Linked DNA regions of Homo sapiens. The protein of the gene in region 1 interacts with the protein of each later gene in a biochemical or structural test. Each region holds a gene or a part of one and is shown on either strand. Other genes may lie near its edges. The genes, in order: BRAF and NANOG.

Region 1 (3,821 bases):
AAATTCCATCTCCAAAAAAAAAAAGTGGTGTTCAGGTGGGCCTTGTTTTCATGTATGTATTTTTATACATAAAAAAAGGTACTGAAGAGGCCAGGCGCAGTGACTCACACCTGTAATCCCAGCACTTTGGGAGGCCAAGGTGGGTGGATCAGTTGAGGTTAGGAGTTCGAGACCAGCCTGGGCAAAATGGTGATACCCGTCTCTACTAAAAATACAAAATTATCCGGGCGTGGTGGCACACGCCTGTGATCCCAGCTACTCGGGAGGCTGAGGCAGGAGAATCGCTTGAACCTGGGAGGCGGAGGTTGCAGTGAGCTGAGATCGCGCCACTGCACTCCAGCCTGGACAATAGAGTGAGACTCCATCTCAAAAAAAAAAAAAAAAGGTACAGAAGAAAGTATAGACTCTAACAGTGGTTATCCCTGGAGAGCAGGATTTGAGAGCCTTATACTCTTTATACATTTCTATAGTATTTTAATTTTTATTTGCATGTTATACTTGGAATTTACAATTTTTTGCAACTGCTTACTTCTTTGTCTTATACTAATCATCATAAAGATTACTTTTTAAAAAAAATTTAACTTTTAAAAACAATTTTCAGCCAGGCATGGTGGCTCATGTCTGTAATCCCAGCCCTTTGGGAGGCCGAGGCAGGCAGATCACCTGAGGTCAGGAGTTTGAGACCAGCCTGGCCAACGTGGTGAAACCCTGTCTCTGCTAAAAATACAAAAATTTAGCTGGGCATGGTGGTGCGCTCCTGTAATCCCAGCTACTCAGGAGGCTGAGGCAGGAGAATCGCTTGAACCCAGGAGGGGGAGGTTGCAGTGAGCTGAGATTGTGCCACTGCACTCCAGCCTGGTTGACAACAGCGAGACTCCGTTTCAAAAAAAAAAAAAAATTGGTATCTCAGGACAATAACAAAAGTAATAATAATAGCTGCTAAGGTTTTATTGAGTGCTTATTATAGGCCAGGCATTATGCCAAGCCCTTTAAACATGTTTCATGATTATGAACATGCATTATCATGCTGTATGCCTTCAAGGATTATAACCTGTTTCTTTGTGCCTTAAAATTGTGAATTTCTGCATTTTATATATTGGGGTCTATTTGTCGAGTTCTCCTATCTTTGCTCTTGGGTTGTCCCCTGTCACTTCTCATGTGCTACTAGCACTCTGGGTCTGTGAGGTTCTGCTTTCAATTAGGTGTATGTAAAACATTTCCCATGGCTAGGTTTCTTTAAAGGGCAAGTAGCTGTGATAATTCTGTTTAGAGATAGTCATAAAGTGCTTTACTTATTTATACTCCATCTTCTTCCCAAAAGAGACTTGTGGTCTATAACAAAAAGGTATAAAATTGGTTTTAAATTTCTATTATTTACTGTTTCAAGACTAACAAATGATCTAAAATATAAATAAAAGCTGACTAAGAATTACTCTCCCCATTTAATTTACAGAGAGAGTTTCTTCTTAAGAAAAAATACCAATTATTTACAAATATTTTCCCAAGCATTTATGACAATGCTGAAAACAATGTAAGATTTCAGGTGCTTTCTTGTAAAGTGTGATGGGACTCTTAAAGATTTATACCACCCAGATTTTCATTCTTCTTTCTGTTTTTTCTTTTTCTTTCTTTCTTTTTTTTTCTTTTTTCTTTTTTTTTCTTTTTTTTTTCTTTTTTTTTTTGTAGATTCTCGCCTCTATTGAGCTGCTGGCCCGCTCATTGCCAAAAATTCACCGCAGTGCATCAGAACCCTCCTTGAATCGGGCTGGTTTCCAAACAGAGGATTTTAGTCTATATGCTTGTGCTTCTCCAAAAACACCCATCCAGGCAGGGGGATATGGTGCGTTTCCTGTCCACTGAAACAAATGAGTGAGAGAGTTCAGGAGAGTAGCAACAAAAGGAAAATAAATGAACATATGTTTGCTTATATGTTAAATTGAATAAAATACTCTCTTTTTTTTTAAGGTGAACCAAAGAACACTTGTGTGGTTAAAGACTAGATATAATTTTTCCCCAAACTAAAATTTATACTTAACATTGGATTTTTAACATCCAAGGGTTAAAATACATAGACATTGCTAAAAATTGGCAGAGCCTCTTCTAGAGGCTTTACTTTCTGTTCCGGGTTTGTATCATTCACTTGGTTATTTTAAGTAGTAAACTTCAGTTTCTCATGCAACTTTTGTTGCCAGCTATCACATGTCCACTAGGGACTCCAGAAGAAGACCCTACCTATGCCTGTGTTTGCAGGTGAGAAGTTGGCAGTCGGTTAGCCTGGGTTAGATAAGGCAAACTGAACAGATCTAATTTAGGAAGTCAGTAGAATTTAATAATTCTATTATTATTCTTAATAATTTTTCTATAACTATTTCTTTTTATAACAATTTGGAAAATGTGGATGTCTTTTATTTCCTTGAAGCAATAAACTAAGTTTCTTTTTATAAATTTTGAGTGCAGGTGACCAAAAATATTGCTGAGGAGTGGCACGTTTGACATGAGTAAAATGTCTTAACTTCGGATTTTTAGCGGGAAAATGTTATAAATTGGAGTTTCTTTTAAATAGCTTTTTTTAAAATACATTAAGGATGTCTCGCTCATGTAGAAGTCAAATTTTGTTGCAAACGCATTGCTCCCTTCACACCCAATCTCTCCCCTGCAAAAAATCTTCACAGAATTCTGTGAGAACTTTTAGGTGTGTTTTTCTTTGAGATACCTCTGGTTGCCAAACACCAGGTAATAGATTTTTTAAAGTTGTTATTAGATTATTCTTACCTCTCATGATGCATATTTTAGCAATCACCTTATCATTGTGTCTCATGTTCTGTCCTCCTTATATTCTTTGCCCAGCAAGATTCTACTTATGATGAATGAATGCTCTTCTCCTTTTTTCATTCAATGGTATGAAGTATTTGTTAGGGTTCTTTAGTACTTACACTTTGTTGTGTAGAAAATGACTGTAATGTGGTGGTCAGTGTATTCTTACTGTGATTCAGAGGGAATCAAAAGTAGAAAGCAACAGCACGTGGTCCTATCAAAGATTTGGCCATCTCTGCTTCACTGTCAGCCTCTTAACTATATCTTCACTTACTCAATTTGGTTTTGTCATGATTTTTAAATGTAGCCAATAGATCAAGGTTCTTCCAGTAAACACATATCTGCATAAATGCCTCCTTGAAGTCAATAAAGAAGGAAATTGAGAAGACTTTAAATTAATGATAATTTAGTTTTTAAGTACCCACAAATAAATTTTTGAAACATTTTCTTTATTTGAATACTTAGATGTCATCCAGGAAAATCACTCAATAATAATTACGGCAAATCTTTAACCCCTCATTTGGGTAGCTTAAGATAAGTAATGCCATTATGAATCAGAATTGATTCATGACTTTAGTTAAGAAAATGAAAAGGAACATTTCACGTATTTTTAAAAATGATACTAAGGAATAAAGAAGTACAACTATTGGAAAATATCTAAGTATATGATTTTTAAATCCTCCAGTGGCATTAAATATATGATTATTAGTAATTGTTAGATAGGGTTTTATTCATTCACAAATAGAAGACTAGCAAGCATGTAACTAACAAAGTTTTTACAAAATTGACTTTGTGGAATGCTCCAAATGTTTGGCCATTTTGAGGCACAAGGTCAGGGGTCTCTTTATTGATAGAGCTCCTTCTATAATTTCCCAGCATACCTGCCTCACAGTTATCTTCCTTTCATTGTTCACTCTCTTTTTCTTCTCAATGCCATCCTGCCTAGGCTCCCATCATCTGCATCTGACACCTTTCCTTTCTTTCTTTACTAGTCTCCTTTGCGATGG
Region 2 (3,821 bases), on another chromosome or scaffold:
CCTAATTGAATCTCAAATTCTCACCCTTGGTTCTTGTCCTTAGCTCTTGTGACTACGCCAGTGTTATCAGAGGACATGTAAACACTGCTACCCTTTCTACTCCACATGCACCTTATCCTAAATGGATTAATGTATCCCATCTTTTTGCCTGTTTTGTTCCATGTATTTAATTGATTTAATACGATTCTAGCATCTTAATTTGATCTGTGAGCTTTTCTGTTTCTTAATAGTTTGCTTGGTAGTATCATCAGAGGTAGTGCTACCACTGCATTGAAGTAATTTCTCAGATGCTTAACCTTCTAAAATTCTCAAGCACACTTTATTCAAGGACCACAGAGTTTACACCAACTACCCAGAAGCCAGGAATAGCTTAAGGAGAGACTCACCACCAGCAGCTTCTTTTCAATCAAGTTTCACTTCAACCTCACACCCAGGAACCCATTCAAATTCCTACATTTCGGTATCCTTAGTCGAACTAACTTCCTGTGCCGGAAGCTTTTGTCTGTCCCAGTGACTTCTTTCTTTAACAAATTCCCTTCATCTCCCCCTTGAGTCAAAGCCCATGGGGGCCCCAGGAGGCATGCAATATTTACCAAGGGCTCTCCCCCACTTTCCTGCCTCTGTCTGGCAGTTGTTTGCCTTTACTTTTAGGTTTGTAGTCACAGCCTGTATTTTTTCCTGTAGACACACCAGGTTTTCTGAACGGTAGAATTACTCAGAGTAGAATTAACCTTGTCCTTCACCCCGAGAACTGAGCTTGAAATTCACTAATCAAGGCCTGTATTCCTCCCACTTCTGAGTTTTAAATTTATATTATGAAATTCGGAAAACCCAGGCAAATTCAATCCATGCTTCTCTCCTTCAGGTACAAACTGAAATGAAAATGAAAGCTGAGAAATCAAAATAATGAATTTTAAAAACTAAAATATGGTAAAGCTACTAAAATATAGCATTGGAAGTAACACACACCTCCTTTTGGGAAAAGAAAGGAAAATTTTCTAGAGAAAGGAAGAAATGTTAAACAGAGAGCCTTGTACTATCCTTTTTGCCTAATCTCCTATTATTTTTGTTTATTTTTGAGACAGTGACGCTCTGTCGCCCAGGCTGGAGTGGGGTGGCATTATCTGGGGTCACTGCAACCTCCCGGGTTCAAGTGATTATCCTGCCTCCGCCTTCCAAGTAGCTGAGATTACAGGCGCAAACCAAGACCTCTGGCAAATTTCTGTATTTTTAGTAGAGACAGGGTTTCGCCATATTGGCCATGCTAAACTTGAACTCCTGACCTCAGGTGATCCACCTGCCTTGGTCTCCCGAAGTGCTGGGATTACAGGTGTGAGCCACGGCACCTGGCCCACTAATCTTACTGCTTTTGACTGTAGTTATTATTGTTACTTTAAAGATTATTCCAAATAGATCTCTAAATTCTTACCTGCCAAGAGGTTGAAGATTAATACTGGGTGATTAAAAAAAAAAAAGTTCAGAAAACATAATACAGGGCTAGGCTGGTGACTCATGCCTGTAATCTCAGCACTTCGGGAGGCCAAGGCTGGTAGACTGCTTGAGCTCAGGAGTTTGAGACTAGCCAGGCCAACATGGGGAAACCCCGTCTCTCCTAAAAACACAAAAGTTAGCTGGCATGGTGGTGTGCACCTATAGTCTGGGCTATTTGAGAGACTCAGGCAGGAGGATTGCTTGAATCCGGGAAGTCGAGGCTACAGTGAGGTGAAATGGTGCCACTAAGCCCCAGTCTGAGCAGCAGAATAAGCCCGTCTTAAAAAAATAAAAAAGAAGGCTGGGCACTGTGGCTCATGCCTGTAATCCTAGCACTTTGGGAGACCGAGGAGGGTGGATTACCTGAGGTCAGGAGTTCGAGACCAGCCTGGTCAATACGGTGAAACCCCATCTCTACTAAATACAAAGAATTAGCTGGGCATAGTGGCAAATCCCTGTAATACCAGCCACTCGAAAGGCTGAGGCAAGAGAATCACTTGAACCTGGGAGGTGCAGGTTGCAGTGAGTAGAGATTGCATCATTGTGCTCCAGCCTGAGTAACAAAAGTGAAGTTCCATCTCAAAAAAAAAAAAAAAAATTGCCCAGACACGGTGGCTCACACCTATAATCCCACCACTTTGGGAGGCCGAGTCAGGTGGATCACCTGAGGTCAGGAGTTCGAGACCAGGCTGGCCAACATGGTGAAACCCCATCTCTACTAAAAATACCAAAAATTAGCCGGGTGTAATGTTGGGTGCCTGTAATCCCAGCTACTTAGGAGGCTGACGCAGGAGAATTGCTCGAACCCAGGAGGCGGAGGTTGCAGTGAGCCAAGATTGTGCCACTGCACTCCAGCCTGGGCAATAGAGAGAGACTGTCTAAAAAAACAAACGATAGGCCAGGCGCAGTGGCTCACGCCTGTAATCCCAACACTTTGGGAGGCCAAGGCTGGTGGATCATGAGGTCAGGAGTTCAAGACCAGCCTGGCCAACATAGTGAAACCCTGTCTCTACTAAAAATACAATTAGCTGGGCATGGTGGCTCACCCCTGTAGTCCCAGCTACTTGGGAGGCTGAGGCAGGAGAATCACTTGAACTCGGGAGGCGGAGGTTGCGGTGAGCCGAGATCGCTCCACTACACTCCAGCCTGGGCAACAGAGTAAGACTCCAGTCTTAAAAAAAAACAAAATAAAACAAAAAAAAAACACTTGGAATTAGACTGGATAGTCTTAGTAACATTGGACAATTGGGGAAATAATGAGAGAAAAGACTGGAAAAAACCACTCTGATAACCTGCATCATGCTGCTTCAGAGTGAAGGGACGTGCTCTCAGATCAGATACATTTAGGGCAGGCACAAGATGGGAAAAGGACAGTAAAGGATTATTAGTATAATTCACAGATGCCTGCGTAGCTGCTCTTAAGGTGAGAACATAAATCTGTTTCAACTAGCCTTAGAATTTACTTACATATAGGCCTCTGATGAAACTTTAAATGTTAGCATCAATTACAGATTCATACACGGAAATAACCCATTACATTTGTAGATGCACATGTACAATGCACGTAAGTGCCCTTTTTTCTAAAACTGGCATATTTATTATTCATTCATTCTAAAACTGGCATATTTATTTATTATTCATTTATTTACTTATTTATTTATTTATTTTTGAGATGGGAGTTTTGCTCTTGTCGCCCAAGCTGGAGTGCAGTGGTGTGATATTGGCTCACTACAACCTCCACCTACCAGGTTCAAGCGATTCTCCTGCCTCAGCCTCCCAAATAGCTGGGACTACAGGCATAGGCCACCACGCTCAGCTATTTCTATGCATTTCTAAGATAGCAGTGTCCTCAGCTAATTTCCTTCTCCACCCCAACCAAAAATTTAACAAAGATTTATGTTTAAGCTGTATATTTACTCATTGAAACACTCGGTGAAATCAGGGTAAAATCAACTAAAGGAAAAATAGTTGTTTCATTCATTTGAACTTAAACCAACTAAAGCAGTACTCATGTCATTACGATGCAGCAAATACGAGACCTCTTTCTACAAAGATTAGCACAACCAACAAATTAGGGGATATAGCAAAACAGAGCCAAAAACGGTAAGAAATCAATTAAGTATGTTACAGCTTAACCCTTTACCTCAATAGTTTTTAAAAAATAAGCAAAGCCTCCCAATCCCAAACAATACGAATACATCTTCATCACCAATTTGTACTTGTATTTCTTATTCTTGAGGTTAGATTCTAAACCCTAAAGATATCCAAACTAGTATTAGATCTACTTATCTATAGCCAGAGACGGCAGCCAAGGTTATTAAAATGTCTTT

Evidence for each region.
Region 2: of the proteins of BRAF (region 1) and NANOG, one has a biochemical effect on the other in vitro, tested with the Homo sapiens proteins (one study listed by BioGRID).

What each region holds. Positions count from the first base shown.
Region 1 is NC_000007.14:140,732,636-140,736,456, reverse strand, and holds part of BRAF (serine/threonine-protein kinase B-raf), read left to right. Parts: intron 1-1,686; coding exon 1,687-1,860; 3' UTR 1,861-3,821. UniProt on the Homo sapiens protein: Protein kinase involved in the transduction of mitogenic signals from the cell membrane to the nucleus. Phosphorylates MAP2K1, and thereby activates the MAP kinase signal transduction pathway. Phosphorylates PFKFB2.
Region 2 is NC_000012.12:7,795,626-7,799,446, reverse strand, and holds the end of NANOG (homeobox protein NANOG), read right to left. Parts: 3' UTR 301-3,821; downstream 1-300. UniProt on the Homo sapiens protein: Transcription regulator involved in inner cell mass and embryonic stem (ES) cells proliferation and self-renewal. Imposes pluripotency on ES cells and prevents their differentiation towards extraembryonic endoderm and trophectoderm lineages.